Homo sapiens: one gene and its partners. The protein of the gene in region 1 purifies or fractionates together with the protein of each later gene. This does not show direct contact. Each region holds a gene or a part of one and is shown in the gene's direction. Other genes may lie near its edges. The genes, in order: PAXIP1, KDM6A, KMT2C and NCOA6.

Region 1 (7,025 bases):
GAAAGAAGAAAGCTCTCTGCTGCAGAGAGGGGACCTGGAAGAGCGTTGCCCTGGTGGGTCACTTGAGCTTTGTGGGCACCATGTCACTTTGACAGTTGGTGTGCACTGTCAGCTTAGACACTGCCCACCTCTTCTGAAGCACTTGACTGTCGACTGTTCCTTAACCCTCACTTCCTTGGCTTCTGTTGACGCTCCTCTCCTGTGATACTGCACTTCCCTACCTGTCCCTGAAGTATCAGTTGCTGTGTCTGCTCTCTAGCTCCCCTCCCATTCTGCACTGCGACCACCTTCACGCTCATGGCTGTGGCTCCCATCTATGTAACAATGCTGATGACTTTCTGTCAGGGAGATCCACATCTTTTCCTAGCTGCAACTGGATGCCTCTTGCCAGATATTAACACGACCCCCAAAGAATGGCATGCCCAAACTAAAACACGTCCTTGTGTCCCCACCTGCCAGCCTTCTGATGTGTTCCTCAGTGAGTGGTACTCACCACCATTTCAGTCTGGACTTTGCTCTTTTGCTTATACCCCTTCCAGACACCAAGGCTTGCCGATTCTCTCACATCTTCCTCCTTTCTGCCCATCAGGACATCACTTTAGTGGATGCCTCTTTCACCTGGGTTATTGCACTTGTTTCTTAACAGGTCTCTTGTCTTTAGTCATCTAGCCAACCAAACACAGCCAGCCCACCCAATCCTTTCTTTTCACATGGACTGTCATCTTTGTATGAAATCTGTGCTACTTTTCCTGTGTGAAATCCTTCAGTGGCCCTGCATATACCCCAGAATGAAGCACAGACTTTTTTGCATAGTGTGTAAGAAAGCCCATTTACGGTCTGCTCTGTATTCACCTGTTCAGTGCCTTCAACACTGCTCCCTCTTCCTCGATGTATGGATTTTTGCCTAACACCCAGACGTTTATGAGGGTTCTGCTCACATATCTTGTCTTCCAGAATCTTTCCCTAATTATGAAACTCCCCATGTCCCAGTCTTTAAGTTGGAAGCTCAGGAGCACCATGTGCGTGGCCCCACCGCAGCAGTGGTTGTGCTGTCTCCTGGTTTGTCCAGCCCATCTGTCTTGAGGACAGACCATGTCCACTACTGGACTCACAATAGCCTCCATTACTTGGTCATTGACTTGGTCAGTGAATCAAGATTTGCTGCTTTTGATTGTCCCCGAAAGTTTCATTGGCATATTATTCAGAGTAAAAGGCTGTTAGTTTTTATGTGGGGAATATGGTGTGTTTTTATTAAAAAGTACTATTATGCCCAATAATTATTTCTGTAATTCAAGAGTACAGTACAGTATTGCCCATTTTAATTTGTGTGGATTTTCTTGTTTTTTAGGTTATTCAGCTTCTCAAGGCTGGAAAAGCGAAGGAAGTTTCCTACAATGCACTAGCCTCACACATAATCTCAGAGGATGGGGACAATCCAGAGGTGGGAGAAGCTCGGGAAGTCTTTGACTTACCTGTTGTAAAGGTCAGTAGTAAACATAATTTGTTTTATATCTTTTCCTCAGTATCTTGCAAGCAGTACATTGAAGTTTCACTATAGCTCTTTTCAGGGTTTTTGCTAAAGTCCTGTTTTATTTTATTTTTATTTTTTATTTATTTATTTTTTTGAGCTGGAATCTCGCTCTGTTGCCCAGGCTGGAGTGCAATGGCACGATCTCAGCTCACTGCAACCTCCGCCTCCCGGGTTCAAGTGATTCTCATGCCTCAGCCTCCTGAGTAGCTGGGATTACAAGTGCCTGCCACCACGCCTGGCTAATTTTTGTATTCTAGTAGAGACAGGGTTTCAACATGTTGGGCCAGGCTTGTCTTGAATTCCTGACCTCAGGTGATCCGCCTGCCTCAGCCTCCCAAAGTGCTGGGGTTACAGGCATGAGCCACCGTGCTGGCCCTAAAGTCCTGTTTTGTGTGGAAAGTTGCCAGATAACTGTGGACATCTTTAACGTCTGAGTAACTTCCCTTAGCTTCAGGTCCTTTCAGCTAAACCAAGGTAGAGCATGGCTTCTGTATGTCGTAAGTAATCCTAGGCCATCCTTTATGCCTGCTGCAGAACTCGTCCCACGTTACCACTGCCTGGAAGTTTTCTGAGCCAGGGAAACCTGTCATGGGAAACAGATCTGATGCCTTGAATCAGATGGGTGTTTGAATTATTGTAAGAGTGTATTTCATTCCAAAAGCAGGCTAAGGCCTGTCGGGAGGTAACTCTAGGACAGGGTTACTTTCCATCCCGACTGTGGCAAGGTGTTCTGAATTTCAGTTAGCTGAAGGGCGTCCCCCATTAACTATGTTGTGGAACTCCTTTCTGACAAGAGTCACAATGGCCTTTAGTCACATTGTCTACCCACTGGTCGTCTGGGGTGTATCCAACTTGACCTATGGGTAATTTATTGCAGAGAATGAGGGATTCAGCTAGTGGAAGAATTGTTCAGATTTTGTTTATCCACCTACTGTATTATGTTATGGCTGATAAGTTAGTTGACTTCTGTTAAAATGTGTGTTTTAAAAATTTGTTAAATTTTGTAATTCCAATGCTTCGATTTTATTTCAGATCTTCCCTATGAAGTATTTGTTTTAAAATAGTTCTATACCACTACCATTTTTTCCCTCTTCATGTTATTAAATGCTTTGCCTTAAAAAGAAATCAGTATGAAAGTTACTGTGGTTTAACAATAACAGTGTTAGGAATTAAGAAAGATTGCCAGCCTGGTGCAGTGGGACTCACCTGTAGTCCCAGCTACTTAGGAGGCTGAGGTGGAAGGATTGTTTGAGGCCAGGAGTTCAAGGCTGCCATGCACTGTGATCACACCTGTGAATAGCTACTGTACTCCAGTCTGGGTAACACAGTGAGACACCATCTCTTAAACAAAAAGAAAAAGGGAAAAAAATAGAAAGATTGCCATTAAGTCAAATTGCGGGGCCAGAGAAGCCACCTGGCTGCTGGGAAGTGGTGACCTCCCTGGTACCCAGGGTCGGAAACTGCCTTGGATGAGGTCCTGAGCTGGGGCACCCTCTTCTTTGGAACATGTTTTTGTCTCTGGCTTGCTTCCTTGTACTGCTTTAGGGACAGTATCTCTGTCTCTTCCTTCTCCTTCCTACAAACTTTCTTTCTCTCAGACAATAGCCTGGAGCTATTGTCTCAGTAAAGCGGCTTTGCATATCTTATGCAGATGTTATGTGAAAGGGTGATCTTTCTAACACATCCTTGGGGCCTAGGTGATTGTTGCCAGGCCAACTACCAGAAGTAGTTCTTAAACCTGCCTGACCCCAAACCACCTTTTTGTAATAAGTACTTTGTAGCACTCCCCTTATTATCCAGAAATGAATCGATACGTAAGCCAACCTTTAAAATATGTATATATAAATTGCCCAAACTGAAATGTGAAGGCGAAATAAAAGGCAAGTAAATAATAAATATATATTTCAATGTGTAAACACTTGGGCATGGCTGCTGCTATATGTAGAGTCACTGCCGGTAGCTGCTGCAATTACAGATTGATATCATACCCCACAAGTGGGGTCGCCGCTGTGAGGTGACATTTCAGAATGGTGATCAATTCCTGAGCTAAACAAAGCAGTCTTCCTTCATTTTACACAGTATTCATATTCCTGGGAAAGTCAGTATGTAAGGCTAAGTAGAAATACCCATTACTTATACAATTAGCAGTTAGCATCTAGGATTATCACCATTTTGCCAAGGTAGTTTACTGTATTCAAACCCAACTTTTTCCCCCTCTGGCTATAGTATTTTAAAATGAGTGACAGACATATTTCATCTGTACCCAGTAGCATTCCAGCCTGCTTGTAATTTTTGACAGCACCTGTATTGTCCAGGGACTATTGTGTTACATTACAAGGTGGTAGAGTACTTCGGAGCTGACTCAACAGTTTGCCTTCACTCTAAGATATTTCAAGTAGATCCTGATATTCTTAGTTTGAACCTTATGGGCCTGTCTTATTTTGGATCCTGCTGCTAATAGTTGAGTCTGAATTCATATGACTGAAGGCTGAGACCTGGTTCCCTAGAGGCATATCCCTTGGCCTTTACCTTGATAGGAAGTTTGACAATGCATTTTAAAAATAAGGCATCTTTATACACAGTGACAGTTTATCTATCATTTACATATTTGAATCTTATAAATGTTTAAAACTTGCTTCTTTGGGCACCAAAACTTTTAAAATTATTTTTTAAATTGAGATATTTTTCTCAGTGGCCTTTGGGCATCATTGGAAATGTTAATTTTGCTGACTTGTAGTGGGCTTATTTTATTTAATTTTTTTTCAGACAGAATCTCCCAGGCTGGAGTGCAATGGTGTGATCTCGACTCACTGCACCCTCTGCCTCAGGGTTCAAGCGATTCTCCTCTCTCAGCCTCCCTAGTAGCTGGGACTACAGGCGTGTGCCACCACGCCCGGCTAACTTTTGTGTTTTTAGTAGAGACGGGGTTTCACCATGTTGGCCAGGCTGGTCTCGAACCTGTCACCTCAAGTGATCCGCCCGCCTTGGCCTCCCAAAGTGCTGAGATTACAGGCATGAGCCATCGCGATCAGCCAGCTTATTTTTATATATTGTTCTTTGCCTTTAGGATAAATAGTTCCTTATCACTTTGCTTTTGTAGTTCTCCATTTCTGCTTTGTACTGTGGCCTACATCCTAATTTTGCATTATTTTATCTAAACTTATCTGAAGTAGGGCCTCAGTGATTCTACTGTGCTTGGATGGGACTTTATGATAGCCAGCAGTCTTTAAACTGGGATACCCTACCCAAGCTCCCTGGGGGGAGATATTCAGCGTGTATGCTGTGTGGATGGTTGTAAGGTGATAGATAACATTTCCAGACTGGCCCTTCCTAAAGCTGCCTGAGAACACACCTGTGGTCACAGTGGCCCCTCCCACTTTACACAGGAAGAATCAGACCTTCACCCATCCTAATCTTGTAGTGCATTGCCCCAGGCTCTGAAAATTCTCGTGGACAGCAGACAAAAGGACAATTAGAAAGACTGGTTTTAGGGACTGTTCCCTTAGTGCTCAGTCATGGCATCATGAGGAGAGAGGGGTTTCTGGGTGTTGCTGTTGAAAGGAGAGCTTGGTCTACATGAAGGTGTTCTGAATTCAGAAGTGTCAAGGCCAATACCGATTCCTGATGCTGGCCCATTTTTTTAAATTTAACTGGAATTTTTCTAGGACTATCAAAAAATGTGAAGATATGTTGGATAAGGCACATAGATCGAAAAATTAAGTGCCTTCTTTCAGATTTCAGATAACTAATCCAGTAACTTAGTTAAAACCTTTGGTAAATGTCAAATCATAATGAAGTAATTATCCCAGGCACAGCTGCCAATCTTTATTTTATTTTATAAAATGTTTAATATTCCTCTTCTCACAGAAAATATACTTATTTAGAGTTATGCTGAAAAATTTTAGATGTCATCTAAAAAATGATAAGGGGGGCATTTCATTGTCTGAAATTTATTTAAGGTGTACATGACAAAAATAGCTTGAAGATCATTAGCTTGGAATATGACTTGCAGGAGAGCAAAGACTGCGTTTCTCGTTTTCATTGTTACATCCCCAGCGCCTTGCACCATCTCTGCATAAAATAGATTCTCAATAAATATTTGATGAATGAATTGATGGGTGGGTAGTGAGTATATATGTCTGTTTCAGTTGGCTGAAGTTTCTGGAAGTCAGCTGCCTTCCAGAATGTAGTAATGGGGGCATTACTACATTTTGATAGTAATTTTCTGAAGTAGAGCTATCAGGAGAATGATTTGTATAATTATAAAAATTAAACATAGAAACAAGATAATTTTTCAAAAATATAAATTACCCAGAAAGGTAGTAATTAATCTGTTTTATAATTAATCTCAGTTTTTAGAATTTATAAAAATATTTTCAGGCTTACAAACATTGTATCTGCTTGACTTCACTAAAACAAACAAACACCTCATGAATTTAGACTTGACTGAATTTGGGATTCAAGAAGGGAGCGTATGAGAGGCTGACTATGCCCTGGATGAGGTGTCGGCGGTGGTGGGGCAGGATGGGTGGCAGTTCCCCTGTCCTAAATGTGGGGGTCAGCAGTAATAAGTGTGTAAACCTGGAACTTAAATGTTTATACATAATTTTAAAAAAATATGGTAGTGCTTCATTCTGTAATTGGATTTTTCATCTTGGGTATTAGTAACTAATCTTTGACTATAATATTTCTATTTGAATATTCATACTTGTAATCTGGATGTTTTAAAATAGGTTGTAACAGAGACTTTTAATTTCTAAGAACAACACTAGTAAAATAATATGCCACTTGTAAATTGAGAATACTTTTTGATTTAATCTTTTCTTTTTCAGCCTTCTTGGGTGATTCTGTCCGTTCAGTGTGGAACTCTTCTGCCGTATCCTTTTTTTTGAGTGGGGGAGGAGGGAAAGGGTAACTCTGGGTTTAAGACTGAAAGAAATGATAGTTAATGGAGTGAAAAGTGGATTCATTCGTTAGGACAGATTGTTTTGTCTACATCTTATATTCCTACTATTTTCCATCCTGTTTCAAATTTTATGTACCTGATCCTTGTTATTACTCATGTTAAAAGGGGGCTCAGCTGTGACAAGTAACTCTAGGCCGGGAACTGGAGGCAGGAGCTCCGGTTCTCTTCAGCTTTTGTGGTGCTAGCTAGATGAGGGATATTTCTAAAATTCTAAGTCTATGTGAATCAAATCATGAATTGTTTGAAGAGTAAGTTGGGGAAGAGAACATGAGAATAAAATTTATAACATGCATTGTTAATCCTTTTAATTGCATTGGGTAGAACGATTATTAATTCAGTGCACCTGTGCTGTGGGTTGAGTACTGAAAATAGAGGGGTGAAGAAGACCATTTCTGCCCTCAGGGAGCTTCCTTGCTTGCATTGTTCGTTCATGGAGCATTCATAGATGTGCCCTTGCCCTGGCACTGTGTCAGGAGTCAGAAATGAGGCGTTCTACAGGCCTCCTGTTTACTCTTCTAGGCCTGGTGG
Region 2 (7,025 bases), on another chromosome or scaffold:
GCCATTTGATATGACATCATGACATTTTTAATGTATCTTCAGTCCTCAACTAAATTGTAAGCTTCATGAAAATAGGGACTGGGTTTTTGTTTTTTTTCTTTTTCCTTTAGTGCCAAGAATAAGAAGATAATTTCAGTATTTATAATTTCAACTGTTATCTGTGTATCCATCATGTCCATCGTGTATATTCACATTAAGAAAATTACAGTCCTTGAATCGTTAATCTTACCTTGCTAACTTTACTAGTCATAAAATATTATACTTTATATTATTTTTACTTTTTACTTTATACTATTTTTGATACTTAGTTTGAGATTAACTATGTCTTACATGTGCATTTTTTTTATGAATTAAAGAATTATTGCCCTCAGTGTTGTTACTTGGGAAAGGAAAATTGAAATCTGATACAGCAAATCTTACCAACGTATATAGTGTTTTTGTTTTTAACTCTGTATTTTGACCATATAGGAAACTAGAGGTCAAGCTGTATAAGAAGAGTGGAAGAGTGCCGTGTGTGTGTGTGTGCACATGTGCATGCAGCTCTCAGTATTATAATATTGAAGTGATATGTCCCCTAATCATTTTAATAGAGTTCATTAATGCAGCATGCTTTTTAGCACCTATAAGACAGACTATAATATGGTTTGTTGGAGGGCAAATTATAATATTCATTATAGTTAACAAGTATATACATACATACACATAAATATATTAACTTATTAGGGTTTTAAAAAAATTTGCTGTGATATATAGTCCATCCTTTCAGCCGATTAATTTGTTTCAGTATTAATGGAATTCTCTTGATTTTTTTTTTTTTTCCCTTCCCTTCTCAGGTGCTATTCAAGTATTGGGAAAGTTCAGGATGCCTTTATATCTTACAGGCAGTCTATTGATAAATCAGAAGCAAGTGCAGATACATGGTGTTCAATAGGGTAAGCCTTTGTATAAAAATAGTAGTAATTTAATTGATATACAAAGATGGTTGCATCACATATAGTACTTCATAGTTTAAATCATTATAAAACCAAGCAGTTCTTCTGAGTTGACTTATTTTTTCTTAATTTCTCTTTCCAGTGTGCTATATCAGCAGCAAAATCAGCCCATGGATGCTTTACAGGCCTATATTTGTGCTGTACAATTGGACCATGGCCATGCTGCAGCCTGGATGGACCTAGGCACTCTCTATGAATCCTGCAACCAGCCTCAGGATGCCATTAAATGCTACTTAAATGCAACTAGAAGCAAAAGTTGTAGTAATACCTCTGCACTTGCAGCACGAATTAAGTATTTACAGGTAAAATTTTTAAATGGCAGTTTTTTAAAGCCACATATTTCCCCAGAACACTCAGGCAGAAGGAGGGTGGCTGGAAAGTTTGTCTAGTTGTGTTTTGATGTCTATAATCTGTTTCCATATTTTGTAAACATACCATAGCTTGTAATATTATTTTACTTTTCATTTTAAGTAAGATATGCAGTATTTTTAAAGATGCTCTTTTGCACATTTACTCTGTTGATGCATATTAATTTACATAATTTTTTTCTATGTACTGTCTACATTTTTAAGTTGTCATAGCATTTTATAGAAAACACAAACAGTCTTTCACTCTTGCTTGGAGTTTCTTGAGAAGACAGCTATGAGAACTCTGAAAACAGAGCTCAGCTTTGTTTTGATTCTCACAAAGGTTTATATTCCGGTTACCCTGTTTATACTTAGTGTCTTCTAAAGCCCCAAATTTAGAATCTATTTTCTTTTAAAAACAATTAGCTATAGCATTTAGGAAGATTTAGTGGACTTGCTCTTACTCAAGTAGGCTTGTGTTAAATTTGCTTTTTACATAATTTTTCCTAGGCTCAGTTGTGTAACCTTCCACAAGGTAGTCTACAGAATAAAACTAAATTACTTCCTAGTATTGAGGAGGCGTGGAGCCTACCAATTCCCGCAGAGCTTACCTCCAGGCAGGGTGCCATGAACACAGCACAGCAGGTGAGAAGTTGGGTTATGTTCTGCAGGTGCCCAGCTTTAAGGGTTCTTTTCAATTCTCTAGTGGTCAAGCTTAATTTACTAAGCACAGGAGGCTTTTAGTAATGAAAAGCCTTTTGATTTAATTGCAAAGGGAATCTAGATCAAAATAAAATTCCCTCTAATATGGGAAGAGATTTTGGGGTACCAACTTAGAACCTTTGTGCATTTTCATGATTTTGAAGGAGATTTCTTAAAATAATGCTACAGTGGTTTGTTTAATTTTTAAGGCAAGTTTTTCAAAGGAAGGTACACATTATTCCATTGATGAATCATTTAATTTTGATTTTCAATCATTGCAATCAGCGATGTCCACATAGCTTTGAAAAGTATGCAGCTTGTAAAGTTTTATAATTTGAAGGAATGAATTAAGAATATATAGAACCCTATTTTTGTCTTCCTTCTGTGATTCTTAGGCATGTAAACCTCATCATCCAAATACTGAACCTGTATTAGGCCTCAGTCAAACACCAATTTCACAGCAATCCTTGCCACTACACATGATTCCTTCTAGCCAAGTAGATGACCTGTCCAGTCCTGCCAAGAGGAAAAGAACATCTAGTCCAACAAAGGTATATGTTTTAGAGAAATAGAAAATCCCAGTCAAAAAAGAAGTTTCAGCTGCCCTGAAATTGTGCAGTTTGAACATTTCCTGTCCTTTATTTTAAATTTGTGGACATCAAAGAGTGAAAGGTTTGAGTTTTTCCATCCCAAACCCTTAGTATCATATTAAATATAGAAAGTAGGGATAAATTTGCATTCATCAAATCATTTTATTCATCTCCCTGCCGTTAAGATCCCAGCACACTTTTCATCATCACTTTTTACTGACATTGAAATAAATTTAATGTTGGATCTAGTGGACAGTGTGGTGTTTAGGCTAGCCGTTTGGGCCATAGTTTGAGGGTGGGCCTTTTTGGGTGGCTTATTAAATAGTCAGTAATTTTTAAATGTATGATTTCTAAGTTTAATATGCATGTAAAATTATTTTTTAAAGAATTTAATGTTATAACATCTTTTTAACATGTAAATATTCCAATTCATAGTCATTTGGCCTCCTCTAACCATTATTATTAACTGTGGATTTAACCAAATATTCTTTAATTTTTTTTTTAAATCGATTTTCCTCAGAATACTTCTGACAATTGGAGTGGTGGACATGCTGTGTCACATCCTCCAGTACAGCAACAAGCTCATTCATGGTGTTTGACACCACAGAAATTACAGGTATGTAAGATGTTTTTGACAAATTGTTTATTAAAAAGGAGTAGAGGTAGCAAACAAGTATTAATTTTTTTTTTTTTTTTTTTTTTTTTTGAGATAGAGTCTTGCTCTGTCACCCAGGCTGGAGTATAGTGGCACGCTCTTGGCTCACTGCAACCTCCGCGTCCTGTGTTAAAGTTATTCTTGTGCCTCAGCCTCCAGAGTAGCTGGGATTACAGGCACGCACCATCACACCCCGCTAATTTTTATATTTTTGGTAGAGACTGGGTTTCGCCATGTTGGCCAGACTGGTCTTGCACTCCTGACCTCAAGTGATCCACCTACCTCAGCCTCCCAAAGTGCTGAGATTACAGGTGTGAGCCACTGCACCCAGCCCTAAGTATTAATTCTTATAAGTTAAATGGCAGTACATTCAATTAAAATGCACAAAAGTAAAATGAGCCTGCATTTACCAGAATAATGAAGAGCATTCATTCTTGTTTTTAATTTCTTTTTTTTTTTTTAAACAGGACATGGTTTACACTACATAAAGTATAAATATAGGGTATATAGGGTAAAGTTTTCTTCTAACTCTGGCCCCTACCCACTCAAAATGTGGCTGGTATTACTAATTTCCTATCTATCATTCCAGAGGTATGTTATGTATGTACAAGCAAATATACATCCCCCCCTTTCTCACATGTATTATTATTTTTCTTCTTTTTTACACAAATGATAGGATTCTTATTTGCTGTTAACAACATATTTTACAGACTTCTGCATGTCAATATGTGAAGAGCTTCCTTGTTCTTTTATGGTTACATCATATTTCTTTATATAGATGTAACACCTTTATTTAAGCAGATCAGTAATTTTGGACATTCAGGTTGTCTTCAGACTTTGCTTATTCCAGACAGTGCTGCTTTTAGCATACTTGTCAATATATTTTTAAGCTTCAAGAGTTTTCTCTGTGAATACCTAAGAATACTGTATGGATGAGTAAAATTTCATGCCCATCTATTACAAAGAACTCATAGTAAATCTTGTTCAGATGAATGCTTAGTTCATTCTTATATTTCTCAAGCTTATTAAAGGACTTCATCTTGGAGTGTGTGACTGTTGGTCAGAAGACAGTGTGTTTGACCAGATAGTGGTTCTGAGTTTAGTCATTTCAGGGAAAGGTTGCTTAGAATAATGATCTTATTTCCTAAATATATCTTTGACTATATTCTCTTTTTGTTCTTCTTCTAGCATTTGGAACAGCTCCGCGCAAATAGAAATAATTTAAATCCAGCACAGAAACTGATGCTGGAACAGCTGGAAAGTCAGTTTGTCTTAATGCAACAACACCAAGTGTGTATAGCATATTTTTCCCTGAAATTTGTTAGCATTTTGAGTATTTTTATTGACTCTAATGTCATTTTAGAGCATGTTTATGTTCATTTTTACTTTCTACTGGTATTTGACAGAATTTAGTAATCTCTGTATTTTAAAATACTGGTAATTGACGGAGATTTTTAGACAAAAGCAACTATAATTTTGAAGAAGATACTTTGTATTTTATTTATTTACATGATATTTCACATGTATTCTAAGGGTTTGTTTACATTATTTAGTACTGAGGCAAGGTTTTTAGGGCTTATTTAGTTTACAGGATCTGGCATATATGTAACAGAATGAAATTTTGAGATGTCCCCTCTTTTGTGATTGAGAGAAGGACCTATAAGTTCGGGGTCGTTTTCTATAATTTTCAGCTGCTTCCTTTTGTCATTACTAATGGGATTTTTTTTTTTTGAAACCGACTTTTGCTTTTTCAAGGAAGTTTATTTTAAAATGAACAAATACAATTTCTTGTTTTTAAAGTATGTATTTCTCAACTTAGAGAAATTAAGCATTTGGGTAAAATCACACATTCCCTAATTATACATCTTCATATTCATCTGGGGATTCATAGAGAATCCCCTATAGATTCTCTTCCCTATAGATTACACAACCAGCATTTACTTTTCCTTTGTTTTTTTGACAGATGAGACCAACAGGAGTTGCACAGGTACGATCTACTGGAATTCCTAATGGGCCAACAGCTGACTCATCACTGCCTACAAACTCAGTCTCTGGCCAGCAGCCACAGCTTGCTCTGACCAGAGTGCCTAGCGTCTCTCAGCCTGGAGTCCGTCCTGCCTGCCCTGGGCAGCCTTTGGCCAATGGACCCTTTTCTGCAGGCCATGTTCCCTGTAGCACATCAAGAACGCTGGGAAGTACAGACACTATTTTGATAGGCAATAATCATATAACAGGAAGTGGAAGTAATGGAAACGTGCCTTACCTGCAGCGAAACGCACTCACTCTACCTCATAACCGCACAAACCTGACCAGCAGCGCAGAGGAGCCGTGGAAAAACCAACTATCTAACTCCACTCAGGTAATAGGAGGACTAGCTTCCTTGTTGGCTTTTCACATAAATGTTTTTACTGGGTTTTATACACTTTGAGAGAAGAAGAGAGAAGTGTTTGGGGAACTGGTTTTATAAGAATTTTGTGGCACTACAATGTTACTACATTGTGATTCATTATGTACATACATGAGTATATCTTTGTTCCCTTTGTACAGTCTCTACCGACATAGATAACTTAGCAAATTTACAAAGGAAGAAAATAGATCATATAAATCACCCAAAATGCACCATTAATTTACAGTGGCATCATAAGCACATTTATGTAATATTACTTAGTTCATTTCTGCATAAACTGCCTACTTAAGATCAGGCACTAAACTAGGTGTTAGGTATTTGCTTTAGTGGGAGAAAAAGACCAGTGAATAAGTATTTACCATAATGACTGTGAAGTGTGACTTTGGTGGGAAAGTTCTATCAGAGTACCTACGAGAGCACATAACCAAGATGTCAGAGTCTTCCAGAAGCTAGAGTTTAGGGGAGGAGAGGGCTGGTGAAGTGTGCCTAGAAGATAGGTTATGAAGAGGGGAGGGTGAAATAAGAGGCTGAGGGAGAGGCCAAATTTATCTTGAAGGCAAAGTTGATCCACTAAAGTTTTTGAAACAGAGTAATGAATTGCATGCACATTATTTTTGTCAAGGAAATGGGTCATAATGTATTCAACGTTAGCACATTCGTTAGACATTTAATTTCTAAGTTTTTACTTCTGAATGTTTATGTGCATAGTATTTCCCATATTTTGGATTGTTTCCATGATATGGGTACTCGCTGAGGTGAAACTGAAGGGCCAAAGAGTAAGTTTTAAGAAAATGCTCTCAATATGTATAGCCAAATTGCTTGTACTTTTATTAATTTACTATGAGAAATATTTGACTTAAAAAGAGAAATATTTGGCTGATTGTCGGTTAGTCTTATATTATTGATAAAACTGAAATAAGTTCTTTTTCTAAGATTTTTAAGTTTATTCTTGAATTAATATCCTTGGTGGGACCCTGATCTAAAGTGATTAGTACTTTATTCATTCTTAGAGAAATACTGAGTACCTACTAGGTTCATTTCCTACTCAAGGCTCTGGGAATACATCAATAAAGAAAATATACTGAGATGTCTCTACTTGGTGTAGGTAAATAGATAGTAAACAAATAAGCAATACATATATAACATTAGATGATGGTTGTGATTAGTGCTATGGAAAAAAGCACTAATAGAAAGGGAACAGCAGAATACTAGAGATTGGTGGTAGGAGAGTTGCAGTTATAAATCAGAAGGGCAGGGAAGGCTTCTCTGAAAGATAGCATTTGGATGAGAGTTACAGGAGTGAGCCTTGAAGCTATTTGTGATAAGATTGTT
Region 3 (7,692 bases), 2.6 Mb from region 1:
AATATTTAATCTTTCTATTTGTATGTTTTTCCATGTTTCTTTTCTTTCTCTTTTTTTTTGGGGGGGGGTGGTGTCTGCCTCTATTGCCCAGGCTGGAGTGCACTGGAACAATCTCAGCTCACTGCACCCTCCGCCTCCTAGGTTCAAGGGATTCTGCTGCCTGAGCCTCCTGAGTAGCTGGGACTACAGGTGTGCACCACCACGCCTAGCTAGTTTTTATATTTTTAACAGAGACAGGGTTTCACCATATTGGCCAGGCTGGTCTCGAACTCCTGACCTCGTGATCCTCCCACCGCGGCCTCCCAAAGTGCTGAGATTACAGGCGTGAGCCACCATGCCCGGCCTCCATGTTTATTTTCTAGTTGCTTACTTGTCCTTTTGTGTTTATCCTTGTTAACTACTACTGCCAGGCTTAAAGTATAGACCCCTAGAGGGCAAGATTAGTATCTATATAAAATGTACTGCAAAACATCTACTTAAGCCTCACATTCTTAAACACAAATTACTTTTGAAGATGACTGTTCTGCTTGTTTCCTTCCTGGTTTCTTCCTTTAACTTTTCCACCAAACAGGCACATGATATACTTTACTGAAATAACTTATATAGCAATATGAATTTTTTTTTTTTTGAGGCAGAGTTTCGCTCTTGTTGCCCAGGCTAGAGTGCAATGGCGCGATCTCGGCTCACTGCAACCTCCGCCTCCTGGGTTCAAACAATTCTCCTGTCTCAGCCTCCAGAATAGCGGGGATTACAGGCGCACGTCACCATGCCAGGCTAATTTTTGTATTTTTAGTAGAGATGGGGATTCACCATGTTGGCCAGGCTGGTCTCGAACTCCTGACCTCAAGTGATCTGCCTGCCTTGGCCTCCCAAAGTGCTGGGACTACAGGCATGAGCCACCGTGCCCGGCAAATTTGAGGTGGAGGTTGCTGTGAGCCGAGATCGCATCACTGCACTCTAGCCTAGGTGACAGAGCAAGACTGTCTCCCACTTCGGCCTCCCAAGTAGCTGGGACTACAAGCATGTGCCACCAGGCCTGGTTAATTTTTTTTTCTTTTTTTTTTTTTTGAGACGGAGTCTCACTCCGTCACCCAGGCTGGAGTGCAGTGGCGCGATCTCAGCTCACTGCAAGCTCCGTCTCCCGGGTACACGCCATTCTCCTGCCTCAGCCTCCCGAGTAGCTGGGACTACAGGTGCCTGCCAGCACGCCCGGCTAATTTTTTGCTTTTTTAGTAGAGACAGGGTTTCACCTTGTTAGCCAGAATGGTCTCGATCTCCTGACCTCATGATCCGCCTGCCTTGGCCTCCCAAAGTGCTGGGATTACAGGTGTGAGCCACCGCGCCCAGCCAGGCCTGGTTAATTTTCTTTGGTATTTTTTTGTAGAGACGGAGGTCTCACTATGTTGCCCAGGCTGGTCTCGAACTCCTGAGCTCAAGTGATCCACCCGCCTTGGCCTTCCAAAGTGCTAGGATTACAGGCATGAGCCACAGTGCCCAGCCTACAGTGCAACTTTAATAATAACAATATGAACACAAAAATTCTAAGATCTAAAATTTAAGCTTTCAGTGGTCCTTCTATAACAGTGAAAGTTTGGTTCCTAAAAAGCCCTGAGGAATTTATGGGAAAACAAGAGAGACAACATTTAGTAGTGAACCTGTGCATTCTAAATAAAGACAATCACATGTTATAGGCCTTCAATTAGTAAGAATGAATATTGGACTATGAATTTTTATTCACTGTCACTTGTTTGCTAGATGCTTTGAGAATCTTCCTTGCCTATATTTTTCTGAGATGTTGGTTTTTCTTTGTCAAAGATAACAATGCTCATTCCCTCCCCATTAAAAACTACATATATATATATATATATATGATTAGATGATTACTACATGTGCTTTGAAATATTCAAATATTTTAGACAGTAAAAGTCCCTTGTAATTCACCCCTTTGCAGATGATTGGTTAACAGGTTAGTACACATCTACCTAAATTTAAAATCCCATATTTAACATGTATACTTATTAGAAAGTACACATTCTAATATTTTTCTGTTGTATTTGGTACTGTTTCCAGATGCTCCTGCCTTTTTGCTTTCATAATTTTGAAGGACCTCAGCTCCCTGCCTCCTAGATTTTTGCTACTGTGGTCTCAGAGCTGTGTAATTTGGATGACTGAGACGGAAAAACCTCTGGAAAACCTTTATTTATGTTGAATAAGTATTCCTTGAATCCTTCCTCAGCATCCTGGGTTATATTTGATTTGCTCTGTTCATGATAACTTCATGCCAAGGAGACTGCTATCAGCTCTCTTAAAACAGATCCCAACTCCCTGCTCATAGTGGCCAAAGGAATGGAGATTTCAGGCTGAGTTTACTTACCTGCATCATCATCTATCCAGAAGCATCCCTGCACAAACCTCTGTTTCTACCCTTCCATTCACTCGGCTCACTTTTCTGCTCTTAGTACCCTTTGTTTCTTGTGAACTCTCCAGCAGGAGTGACTTGCAATTTGTATCCACTGACACTTAAGTTCTCAGAAGTGCTGGAGAAGCGTATGGAAGTAAATTATCCTGATGTATAATTTTGTACATGTGAAACTCACCGTGGAAGTGCCTATTCTAATTTCAGTACGGAACACAGCTAAATATTTGGATCAATAATCCAGTTTTGAAAGCACACTTTATTTAAAGTACAATGTGCTGAAGAAAATGAAAAAAGAAAGGGTGCTTTCAAATTTGTACTGAGTAAACTTTCACTAGATCACATCATATGTTTATCACTAGTCACATATATGTTGTATTTCTATGTGTAATCGTCAGGCACTTTTAATTTCTAGTTTGCATTTACCATGCCAGCCTCCTCCTCAATCCCAAATTTCCTTTGGTTATAAATTTAGTAAATTTGAAAGAGCCAGCAGGGATTAAACCCTGAAGGTATTCAAATGACTATCTGACGTTATTCCTCATTTCAGCCATTTCAAAAAATTATGCTTTCATTTAGAATAGGCTCTGGGAATCAAAGTGTGTGTATTTTGCCCAAGTAGAAGACACAGTTTAAAGTTAACATCCTAGCTACTAGAAGGGAAAGCAAACATCGCTGGAAAAGGAGCCTATTTTTTTTTACCTTACACTAAAACTACACTGCGAAGATCAAAAGAAATCAACATGAGAGTGTGCCTCTTAACGCTAGGCCCAAAGTAGATGCTTATTAAATGATAGTTTACCCCAATCCTTCACAAATGGTTGATAGGTCTTACTATTTCCCCCCATTCAAATCTAGAATTTTTTCACTCTCATAAACTAATCGATAGTGAATGGAAAGCACAGAATAGATCATCGTCCAAGTGTTAGGTATTAGCCTGAGAAATCCAGAATCCCATATTTGTAACTGTCCTTCTTGAGAAAGTGCATTTTTCAGGCGGATTCTAGCCCCATTTTTCTTTTTACCATTTTTACATATTATGAGAGGTGGCTTAGAAGTACTTCGATTTTTGCCTCTTCATCACAACACACTGAACGTTAAAATCAAGTGGTTGGGTTTTTATTGGCTTATTTTGTCTCTAACCGTTTTATTTCTCGAGCTGTCATCGTTCTTTTCGTCTTACATCCTTATGAACCTTTTCTGGATTAAAAAAAATGACGTTATAATAAGGAAACTAACTGGCGTTGGATTCGAACGAAGTTGACTCCATTCCTTTTCCTCCCCGTAGTGTGGGCGCTACGAGGAAAGACCTCGGCGAGAACCAGCGAAGCCCGGGCTGCCCTCGCCGTGCGGGCGCACATTTGCTCCTCGCGCCGGGCTGCGCCGGGCGACCGCGGCCGCCTCGGCGTGTGTCCGCGGCTCCCTCCCGCCCTCGCCCGCAGTTCCCCGATCCCGATCCCGGATCTCTGGGTCCACAGCTTGGCTACCTCCCGAGCCGGAGCCGGAGCCGGAGCCGGAGTCGCGGCTGGGCCCGGCCGCCGCGTCACAGGGGGAGGGAACCCGGGGGGGAGGGGGAGGGGCGGTGAGGTCAGCGGCGGCGGCGCGTCCGCGGGCGGCGGGAGCGGCGCATGCGCGGAGCGAGGCCCGTGAGTGGCAGCGGCGGCGCGCGGGGGGCGGGCGAGGGGCCGAGTGTGGGGGAGCGGGCGGGGGCCGTCGAGGCGGCGGTGTGTGGGCGCGACGGCTGCGAGTTGGAGAGGTCTGTGGTGCGGGTCGCCCCGGGGGATCCCCGGCGCGGGCCTCGCGCGACGGCCACGGTCGCGCGGCGTGTGTGTGGGGTCCAAGCACACCCGCAAAACTTCCTCCTCCCCTGCTCCGGGAGAGCGAGCGAGCGTGTGTGAGAGAGCGAGTGTGAGGAGCGAGCCGCGGCCCGGCGCCCAGCGCCGCCACTGGAGCAGCTGTCAAAACTTCGCCGCCGCCGCCGCCCGGGCCTGACGGGCCTGACGCGCGGGGGAGGGGCGGCCGGCCGGGGGCGCGACCCCCTCGCCGCCCCCGCCGGGCCCCGCGGCCGGCCCTCCCCGCGCCGGGCCCCTTTCTCCTCCTGCCGCGGGCGGCTCGGGGGAGGGGCCGCGGGCGGAGACCCCGGGGGCCGGCGCCCCTCACGCCGCCCGCCCGCCCGGCTGCCCCGCCCGCCCGCACCCGCCGGCCCCGCCCGCCCCGCACCGCCCGCCCCGCCCGCCGCCCCCCGCCCGGCCCCTGCGCGCGGAGGTGCGCGCGCCCGCGCCGATGTGTGTGAGTGCGTGTCCTGCTCGCTCCATGTTGCCGCCTCTCCCGGTACCTGCTGCTGCTCCCGGGGCTGCGGGAAATGCGAGAGGCTGAGCCGGGGAGGAGGAACCCGAGCAGCAGCGGCGGCGGCGGCGGCCGCGGCGGCGGGAGCCCCCCAGGAGGAGGACCGGGATCCATGTGTCTTTCCTGGTGACTAGGATGTCGTCGGAGGAGGACAAGAGCGTGGAGCAGCCGCAGCCGCCGCCACCACCCCCCGAGGAGCCTGGAGCCCCGGCCCCGAGCCCCGCAGCCGCAGACAAAAGACCTCGGGGCCGGCCTCGCAAAGATGGCGCTTCCCCTTTCCAGAGAGCCAGAAAGAAGTAAGTTGAGTGCGAGGGAGCCAGGCCGGGAGCCAGCGGCGGCGCCGGGCCGGAGCTGTCACCGGGCGCCCGCCCCGCGGCCTCCGCGCCCCGGCGCCCCCCGGCGGGGTGGGGGCGGGGCGGGCCCGCGGGCGGTGGCGGCTCCCGGCCCCGGCCCCGCGCCCCTCGGTAGCCGCCCGCGCCCGGCCTCCCCCGCTCCGCGCCGCCCGCCCGGGCTCCCGCCGGCGCCCGGCTCCGCACACTTTACTTTTCAGTCGGGCCTTTTCACTGGGTCTTCTCCGCGACTCTTCTTTTGGAGAAATTTCTCGTAGCCGCGTCTTGGCCTAGCTGGATCATTGAGAAAACAAGCCCGGAGCGCGCCCAGGTAGTCCCCGGACGGACTCCGGGCGAACCGCCGAGCCGTCGGCGCTCGGGAAACTCTCGGAGCTGTCAAAACGCCCGGGCCAGGTGGTCTCGGGGCGCGGGCTGGGGGCGAGAAGAAAGCGGCCGGGCGAGTGCAGCTTTTGTTTGTCAGCGACTTGCTCCTGGAACTTTTCCTGGTCCCAAACCTGTGTTTTCTTCTTTTGATGATATATTAGGAAGCCATTTGACTTCTTCCTCCCCCCTCCCCCAACACCCAGCACCGCACTCCCGGGCTCCGAAAGCACAAGTCCTGTGGGATCCCCCAGCTTCGGGGAACGGCCTGCCTAAGTTTTGGAGACGTAGCCAGCGTCCCCTCGTAAGGCAGAATACCAAGAGCACTTATTCGGAGAGAGTGCAGATGTAAATGTCGCTTCCCTCGTAAGTCTTAGCTGTAAGGGGCTTGGGAATAGGGTCGCCTGCCTTTGAGCGTACAGTAGGGCTGGACCCCAGCTTATTAGAGGACCAGAAATGTCTTCTTACAGAACGGTTATTTGACGGCTTTGCTTGTAAATTAAGACACCGTTTTAGTGCCAGCGAACTGCTCGGCTTCTGTGGCTCTCGCGTGTGCCGTGGAAGAACTGTGAATGTCTCTCGAAGTTGTAGAATGGCGTGTGTGCTTACTCATTTCGTGAGATGATATTCTCATTGAACTGTCGGGAGTGGAAGGGTGCGCTGGGACGTGAAGGAAGCCAGCACGTTTATGGATAGGCTGTTTCTTTGGTTCGGGTGCATTCACTTAGTAATAGTATTGTTGTTTGGTGATTTGTAGTAAAAATAGTAGCGTGAACTGAGGCATAGCAGAGCTGGGTTGTGGGAACCCATTGAGCTCTTGACTTGAATGTGCTCTTTTCTTGCCCCGCTGTCCTTTTACTATGAAAATGATTCAGGGCCTTCAACTTGCCTCCATATTTTATTGCCAGCTGTTACCTAGCTATGATAATCGTGAGGGAAGCAAGTACAGGATGTGTGTACATTATTACATTAGCTTGTTCGTGATACAAAGTTAGGACTTATTTATTATGCCACTTGCGTTGTAATACAGTGGCAAGTATAAAATGCCCTTATTCTGTATTAACTGAAATTTGTAGAAGGAAGTGGAGGTTTAAGTAATTTTTAGACATGTAAGCCACTTTTTTTTGCATCCTTTAAAGCAACTCAGGACAAGCCATATTGGGGTTTTACCTTGATTGCCTCCCATTTCACTATTTGCAAAGCATTTCTTCATCTCTTACTGAACATTAATTTGCAAGTATTGTTTTAAATTTGCATTTGAATTCTTACTCCAGAAAGATTAGATCTATGTTGTCACACCCCACACCCCATACTCCTGTAAGGGCGTGCTTGTGCACGCGCACACGCGCACACTCACACGCACGCGCACACTCGCACACACCCTACTTTTGAAATGAGCTCATTTGTATTAGTGCAGCTCCTGAGTGCACTGGACGATTAGGGTATTGCCACTTTATTATTTTAATTCTGAATCTCATGAAGAAATAGGCAGCCTTTGGAGAAGATAAAAAATTTCTGCTGAATAACAGTATAATCTAACTATGAAAAATCAAAACTTTTGGAAATATTTAGAACAAATGTAAGTCTGTAGAGAGCTTTTTCTTTTAGATTTGAAAACTAGTACTGCTTTCTTTATAGGAAATTAAAGTCTACTGGTAAATTTGACGGGTCTAAACTTTTTAGAGCGTTTTTTTTGAAATTGTGTCTTTTGAAGGGAATGGAATCTCCAGTTGTTTTTAGCAACATGTAAATGGAAACTAACATATGAATTGGAAAGCAAAGAGGTTTTTGAATTGTGTATCTCTATACTGTATAAGAATCCATGCAGAAAAGACCCTGTAGTTGGACAGTAAAGACCCTGAAAGTGAAACTTATGTGTAACCAGTGTAAATTAGGTTTGTAACCAGTGAAATTATGTGAAATTGCAAATAATTCACCTGAGAAATGAAAATTAATCTTCTTTGCTAAATCTCATAGAGATATTTTAAGTTGCTAATGTTACTTAGATGTTCATTAACTTAGTGAGTTACATTAAGTAGAGAAGATGCCTTTTTTTTTTTTTTCTGGACGAAGTCTTGCTCTGTAGCCCAGGCTGTAGTGCAGTGGTATGATCTCGGCTCACCGCAACCTCTGCCTCGTGTATTCAAGCGATTCTCCTTCCTCAGCCTCCAGAGTAGCTGGGATTACAGGTGTGCGCCATCGCACCTAGCTAATTTTTTG
Region 4 (7,025 bases), on another chromosome or scaffold:
TGCCCGGCCCACGTGTACATGTTTTGGTTTCCCCATTTATCCTATCTAAAGTAGCTCTACTCTTATCTCTTACTTTCTCTTCTCTCACCCTACTTTCTCTTGTTAGCTTTTACTGCTTCCTGAAAAAATACTTGTCTGTTTGTTAGTTGTGTCTCTTGCCAGTTAGACTGTAGGCTCCAAGGATGCAGGGATTTGGTCTGTCTTGTTTATTGATGTTACCTCAGCACCAAAGTGCCTTCTATGTATCAGGTACTTAATGAATAATTGTCAGTTGAATGAATATACACAGTATATTTATTGTATACAAGCATATACAATGGTCATGGAGTTCCACTTTGAGTTTATAAGGCTGGTTTAGAAAATCTTCCTTAGAGTTCAGGAGAAGTCTGGATAGTGTGAACAAGGTAGTTTGCCCCCTGCCTTCATAGTTGGAGCATGGACTGGCTTCATAACTTCATTGTAGGGGATTTTCTAGTCCCCATTTAAAAGTGAAAAATAAGGCCAAGTGCGGTGGCTCAGCCTGTAATCCCAGCACTTTGGGAGGCCAAGGCGGGTGGATCACCTGAGGTCAGCAGTTCGAGACCAGCCTGACCAACATGCTGAAACCCTGTCTCTACTGAAAATACAAAAATTAGCCGGGTGTGTTGTTGTGCGCTTCTAGTTTCAGCTACTGGGGAGGCTGAGGCATGAAAATCACTTGAACCCAGGAGGTGGAGGTTGCAATGAGCCGAGGTTGCACCAGAGCCAGATTCTGTCTCAAAAACAAAACAACAAAAAAAGTGAAAAATAAAAGGGACAAAATTAACTACAAAGTTATTCAGTTAAACGGGGAGATAATGCAAGTAGCTATAGGAAAATCCCAAAGACCCAGTAAATAAATAAGCACTACAGCAAGGCGGGTAGCAACTTTTGTCTAAGTTAGAAATAGCTGAGAAGACTAAAACATGTGCCACATGATTCACCAGGGACTGCGCAGGAGAGGGTCACTGAGGTTTTATTATTCCTCTATTTGCAGCTTCCAGATGGGTCATCTAGTCAGTTGGCTCCCACCAGAGGCTCAGCTTCCAGATCAAGATTAACTGCTTTTTACCACATCAGGGCAGAGGACACCTGTCCTTGGTGTTATTTTCTTTGAAGTGCAGCATCCACATATCACACACATAGCTTTTGAGAGTCATTATTATTACAGTTTTCCAAGAAGCATTTTTAAATGTCTTCTCATGATTGTTGAGGTTTTCCTAAGAGGACACTTCACATTCTTTTTTTTTTTTTTTTTTTTGAGACGGAGTCTTGCTCTGTCGCCCAGGCTGGACTGCGGACTGCAGTGGCGCAATCTCGGCTCACTGCAAGCTCCGCTTCCCGGGTTCACGCCATTCTCCTGCCTCAGCCTCCCGAGTAGCTGGGACTACAGGCGCCTGCCACCGCGCCCGGCTAATTTTTTGTATTTTTAGTAGAGACGGGGTTTCACCTTGTTAGCCAGGATGGTCTCGATCTCCTGACCTCGTGATCCACCCGCCTCGGCCTCCCAAAGTGCTGGGATTACAGGCGTGAGCCACCGCGCCCGGCCGACACTTCACATTCTTATAGCAGAGTTATTTCAGTAGCCCATAGTGCTTTTTGAATTTAATTTAATTTAATTTTTTGAGACGGGGTTTCACTCTGTCACCAGGCTGGAGTGCAATGGCATGATCTTGGCTCACTTCAACCTCCACCTCCCAGGCTCAAGCAATCCGCCTGCCTCAGCCTCCCAAAGTGCTGGGATTACAGGCATGAACCACCCGAGCCTGGCCACTACAAGTCATTTTAAAACAGTGAGATGCTGCCTTTCTCATTATTTAATCTGAAAGAAAGTAAACTTTCTTGATCTTTGAAACGTTAAATCTTTAAGATACCATATGGGAATGTAGAAACTGTTTCTCCTTCTCTATTATATGGTCATTGGGAATGTAAGCAGTTATCCCACAGCCACATCTTTGTAGTTTAGAAAACTCACAGGAAGTATGTCAACAGCATATTTATGTTGGTCAGTGGATATAAGGGTGATGGATGTCTTTCTGAGTAATGTAACTTGAGTATCTTAATACCAATAAGATAAAAATATTTATTTCTGAAACTGTGACTTTTTTTTTTTTTAAGGTGGTCAAGGAGCTGGTCCTCCTCAAAACCAGATGCAGGTGTCCCACGGGCCGCCAAATATGATGCAGCCCAGCCTCATGGGAATTCATGGCAACATGAACAATCAGCAGGCTGGTACTTCTGGGGTTCCTCAAGTGAACCTCAGCAACATGCAAGGCCAGCCCCAGCAGGGCCCACCATCTCAGCTGATGGGCATGCACCAGCAAATCGTGCCCTCCCAGGGCCAGATGGTCCAGCAACAAGGAACCTTGAACCCTCAGAACCCTATGATCCTTTCAAGGGCCCAGCTTATGCCACAGGGCCAGATGATGGTGAACCCCCCGAGCCAAAATCTTGGGCCCTCGCCCCAAAGGATGACCCCACCCAAGCAGATGCTTTCCCAGCAGGGCCCACAAATGATGGCGCCACATAACCAGATGATGGGGCCTCAGGGGCAGGTTTTGCTCCAACAGAACCCAATGATAGAGCAGATTATGACCAATCAAATGCAGGGGAATAAGCAGCAGTTTAACACTCAGAACCAGTCCAATGTCATGCCGGGACCAGCCCAGATAATGAGGGGACCAACTCCAAACATGCAAGGAAATATGGTGCAGTTTACGGGACAGATGTCAGGACAGATGCTGCCCCAGCAAGGGCCTGTGAACAACAGTCCATCTCAGGTTATGGGCATTCAGGGACAGGTCCTGCGGCCACCAGGGCCCAGCCCACACATGGCCCAGCAGCATGGTGATCCTGCTACTACAGCAAATAACGATGTCAGTTTATCTCAGATGATGCCTGATGTTAGCATTCAACAAACCAACATGGTCCCCCCTCATGTGCAGGCCATGCAGGGAAACAGTGCCTCGGGAAACCACTTCTCAGGCCATGGGATGTCTTTCAATGCACCTTTCAGTGGAGCTCCCAATGGAAATCAGATGTCCTGTGGTCAAAATCCAGGCTTCCCAGTCAATAAGGATGTCACGCTAACGAGCCCATTGTTGGTCAACTTATTGCAGAGTGACATATCTGCAGGCCATTTTGGGGTAAACAATAAGCAAAATAATACCAACGCAAATAAACCGAAGAAGAAGAAACCCCCTCGGAAGAAGAAAAATAGTCAGCAAGATCTAAAGTAGGTTGTGATGGTTTTGCCTCAAATTTTATTCATTTGTTTTCTGTGTGGATAACTTTTTTGATGGAAAATTTTACAGAATATAAAACTAGAATAGTATAATGAAATCCCCCTGCTTCAATAATTATCAACTCATAGTCTGTCTTGCCTTCATCTGTACTCTCTTCCATTACCCTTTTGAGTATTTCAAAGCAAATTCGCTGGGTAAATATTTCAGTGTGTGTCTCTAAAAGATAAGGACACTTTTTAATATGCCCGCACAATATTGTTAGCACACCTAGAAAACTAATACTTCCTTAGTACTCTCATATCCAGTGTTCAAACTTCCCTGATTATCTCAAATTTTTTTCTTACAATTTGTTCAAATAAGGATCCAAACAAGATTCATATGTTGCAATTGGCTGGTATATCTCTTAATTTTACAGTGTCGGGGGGTTTTGGCAATCAGAGCCTGAAAAGTAACCAGTGCTACCATATGGCAACTCCACAAAGCACTGACTTTAGGCTTATGATGGCTATTGGGGAACCAGAGAGGCCAAATGTGTTTTGGAAATTAAAACTACTGCTGTCTCTCAAATAGAAATGGTTTTTTTGCACAGGTGCCTTTCCTTTAAAGGCTCTTTATCATCCCTAGAAGCTTAAAACCCCACGCTAAGATGATTGGACCTTTTAAATCAGTTACCCTTTCAGTAAACGTTCTCCAGGTGAGTTATTTTGCAAGATCATAGCAGGAAAGGCAATTAACAATTTATATTTCATTTCCTGAAGCTAAGTATTAATTTGTGTTTCTGGGTTTGATAAAATGTTTCCAGAAGGAATATTCACTGAGCTATATTTTGTGCCTTTAATCATAAAAAAATAATAAATGAGGAAATAATGGCTAATGAATGTAAAACAGGTTAATTGAAATAAATTGTTAGAATTATAGAAAAAGAATCAAGAAACTTTATTTCAACCAGCTTAAATATTCAAAATTAAACCAACTACCTTTATCCCAGCCTTCCCACAACATTCTTTGTACTGTATTATATCATGCTCACTTGCCTCTTCTTGAATCTTATGCTTTAAAAGCTAATCATGGTGTATTATTAATGATAACCTATATTTTCCTGAATTCAAAGTTAATTATCTAATTTTTCTGATAGCTCTTTCTCAGTTAAATTCTTTACTAGCATCAACCTATGGGAATAATTATTTAATAAATATTTTATTCTCTCGGTAGTCTGGGAGTAAAATTGCAAGGTTATTCAGTTGCCTCTAGTGTGTATTTTTTGCCATCTTCACCAGCCCTTAGGGAAATTGGTTACTTAGGTCTACAAATTGTGAAAGGGACCTTACACAGCATCAGGACTCCCAGGAAAGGGAGACAGTGGATTTACAGGAAAAGTACCTGCTTCCAGCTCTACCACTACTTCACTGTGGAATCTTGGGCCTGTTTCATACACCTTTTTGGGCCTTAGTTTTCTCATTCATAACATGATGGGGCTGGACCAGATATCTGAGATTTCTTATCTCTACAATTTTCTGAAAGTAAAGGTTACCACTGAATTCTTGCCTGTAATTTAAAGTGAGAGAGAAGTCTTACAAGGAGCAAATTGTTATAGGTCTGGATGTGCTGACGATCTGCTTCAGGTTCTAAATTTCCATTTGCTGGGAGGCTTTTAAAGTGGATTTTTGTGGCTTATGAAACTGTACAGAGTATAATGAGACAAAACACTACCTAAAAGTGGGTGAACAAAATCAGGGCAAAGGGAAACTAAAGATAGAAAAGAAAAGTACAATTAGTACTGAGATTACAAACAAAATGAGGCCCGTGACCAGTCTTGTTCTTTGAGAATGTGGGTGTTAGTAGCTACAATTTCTTCATTTTTTTCTTCCTTACTAAAAATTTTAAGCTACACCCAGGTAAAAGCAAAGGCATCTCAAAGCAAATAGAGATGTCTGCAAATTCTCATTCTGCAGCAAAATCTTTGTGGTGGTGGTCTCAATCTTTCTTTGTTCTCTGAATACCATCAGCCAACCTATACAACCTTTTGCAAGGTGTTATGAATTGAGCCCCCACTGTTATATCCACAAAAAAGAAACAATCAGACCCCCTAGTTGAATTTGATCGCTACATTGAAGATAGTGTGGTTTCACAGGAACAGTACCTTGTAACATTGATAGTCCTATGATCAGGTCTTAAAACAGCTAAGGAATGGGTGATTACATGAAAATTATTGCACCAGGAATTTGTGGAAAGCATTCTGAGTAAATACAGTGCTGTTAGATTAAATGGATTTTAACATTTAATGAAATTGCCAGATTATTTTTATGCCAATATTTAATATTTTATCTAGACTAGAGAGAGATGAATAATGGTAATGCAAACATTTTAGTTCTTCAGAAATAGGGGAAGGGTTAAGCTAGTTTTGTGTATTTTCTATACAACTTATTCTAAAATATGTCACTTTTTTTTTTTTTTTTTTTTTTAGCACCCCAGATACTCGCCCAGCTGGTCTGGAAGAGGCTGATCAGCCACCGTTGCCTGGAGAACAAGGAATTAACTTGGATAACTCAGGCCCTAAACTGCCAGAATTTTCAAACCGGCCACCAGGTGATAAAATGTTAGCTAGATTATATACTTATTACATGTGCATGTGGCATTACAAGGCTTCCATGTCTTCAAGGAAACAATAGTATTTTATTTTATCTGCTAACTAGTCTACTTCAGTGATTTAATGTGTCTGGTATTTGGAAGCTTTGCCTTGATATTAAGTAAAAATTTCAAATATAACTTTTGAAGGCACATACACACACACATTCTATTCAAATTTGTCTTTGTTATTTTAAGTCCTCATAAAATCGGACTGAAATGTGGTTGGGCATGATGGCTCATCCACCTGTAATCACAGCACTTTGGGAGGCCAAGATGAGCAGATCGCTTGAGCGCAAGTGTTCAAGACCAGCCTGGGCAACATGGTGAAACCTTGTCTCTACTAAAAATTTTTTAAAAATTAGCCAGGTGTGGTGACACGCACCTATAGTCCCAGCTACTCAGGAGGCTGAGGTGGGAGCATCACCTGAGCCCAGGAAGTCGAAGTTGCAGTGAGCCATGATCATGCCACTGCACTCCAGCCTGGGACCCTGTCTCAAAAAAAAAAAAAAAAACCATGAAATGTGAAGTGCCTCTTTATTCTTGTCAATGTCAAGATTCTAGTTGGCATCAGAACAGGATAAGATTAAATGGAGAGATGATTTCACTCTAATCCTGCTTGCCTGCCTTTCCTGCAGCGTTTCTTCCTGGGGCTTCTCAAAGCAGGGAACTACCAGGGTTTAAAACAAGATGATCTTTTTTATAGAAGTTTCATTAATGAGTCTTTAAAATATAAAGAAGATATAAAGAATAAAAGAGACACCCATGTATCTACCACATAGGTTAATAATTTATAATAAATAGGACCAATATTGGAAGCCCCCTTTGTTGTATCCTCTCTGATTATAAAATAATACTATCCTTTAAATGTTGAAAAATTATGTCAAAGATGGAAAAGCTCCTAAAATTAATTCATTCAAACCTAGATATTATAGAACCAAGGCCAGCTGCCACAATATCTCTATACCTGGTTATCTTGGCCTGAGCAATGACTTGTAACTTTATTCCCCTATGACACGGTTGAAGATACACAACCCTTCACACTTAGGCCACTCTCCCCTGTGTGTACAGAGGGTATGTTTTGTTTCTTCCTCACTAGTTATTTCAACTTCTTTTTGGCATGAAAATGAGAGCGAC

Evidence for each region.
Region 2: the proteins of PAXIP1 (region 1) and KDM6A purify together in Homo sapiens (affinity purification with mass spectrometry; 6 studies listed by BioGRID and IntAct, with this or other methods). This does not show direct contact.
Region 3: the proteins of PAXIP1 (region 1) and KMT2C purify together in Homo sapiens (affinity purification with mass spectrometry; 4 studies listed by BioGRID and IntAct, with this or other methods). This does not show direct contact.
Region 4: the proteins of PAXIP1 (region 1) and NCOA6 purify together in Homo sapiens (co-immunoprecipitation; 6 studies listed by BioGRID and IntAct, with this or other methods). This does not show direct contact.

The regions. Positions count from the first base shown.
Region 1 is NC_000007.14:154,993,108-155,000,132, reverse strand, and holds part of PAXIP1 (PAX-interacting protein 1), read left to right. Parts: exon of another isoform or gene 1-53; intron 54-1,348; coding exon 1,349-1,483; intron 1,484-6,361; exon of another isoform or gene 6,362-6,363; coding exon 6,364-6,407; intron 6,408-7,025.
Region 2 is NC_000023.11:45,058,173-45,065,197, forward strand, and holds part of KDM6A (lysine-specific demethylase 6A), read left to right. Parts: intron 1-833; coding exon 834-932; intron 933-1,074; coding exon 1,075-1,294; intron 1,295-1,849; coding exon 1,850-1,984; intron 1,985-2,436; coding exon 2,437-2,592; intron 2,593-3,151; coding exon 3,152-3,247; intron 3,248-4,474; coding exon 4,475-4,576; intron 4,577-5,249; coding exon 5,250-5,645; intron 5,646-7,025. UniProt on the Homo sapiens protein: Histone demethylase that specifically demethylates 'Lys-27' of histone H3, thereby playing a central role in histone code. Demethylates trimethylated and dimethylated but not monomethylated H3 'Lys-27'.
Region 3 is NC_000007.14:152,432,992-152,440,683, reverse strand, and holds the start of KMT2C (histone-lysine N-methyltransferase 2C), read left to right. Parts: upstream 1-4,680; 5' UTR 4,681-4,897; coding exon 4,898-5,058; intron 5,059-7,692. UniProt on the Homo sapiens protein: Histone methyltransferase that catalyzes methyl group transfer from S-adenosyl-L-methionine to the epsilon-amino group of 'Lys-4' of histone H3 (H3K4).
Region 4 is NC_000020.11:34,745,631-34,752,655, reverse strand, and holds part of NCOA6 (nuclear receptor coactivator 6), read left to right. Parts: intron 1-2,136; coding exon 2,137-3,253; intron 3,254-3,259; exon of another isoform or gene 3,260-3,957; intron 3,958-5,727; coding exon 5,728-5,849; intron 5,850-7,025. UniProt on the Homo sapiens protein: Nuclear receptor coactivator that directly binds nuclear receptors and stimulates the transcriptional activities in a hormone-dependent fashion. Coactivates expression in an agonist- and AF2-dependent manner.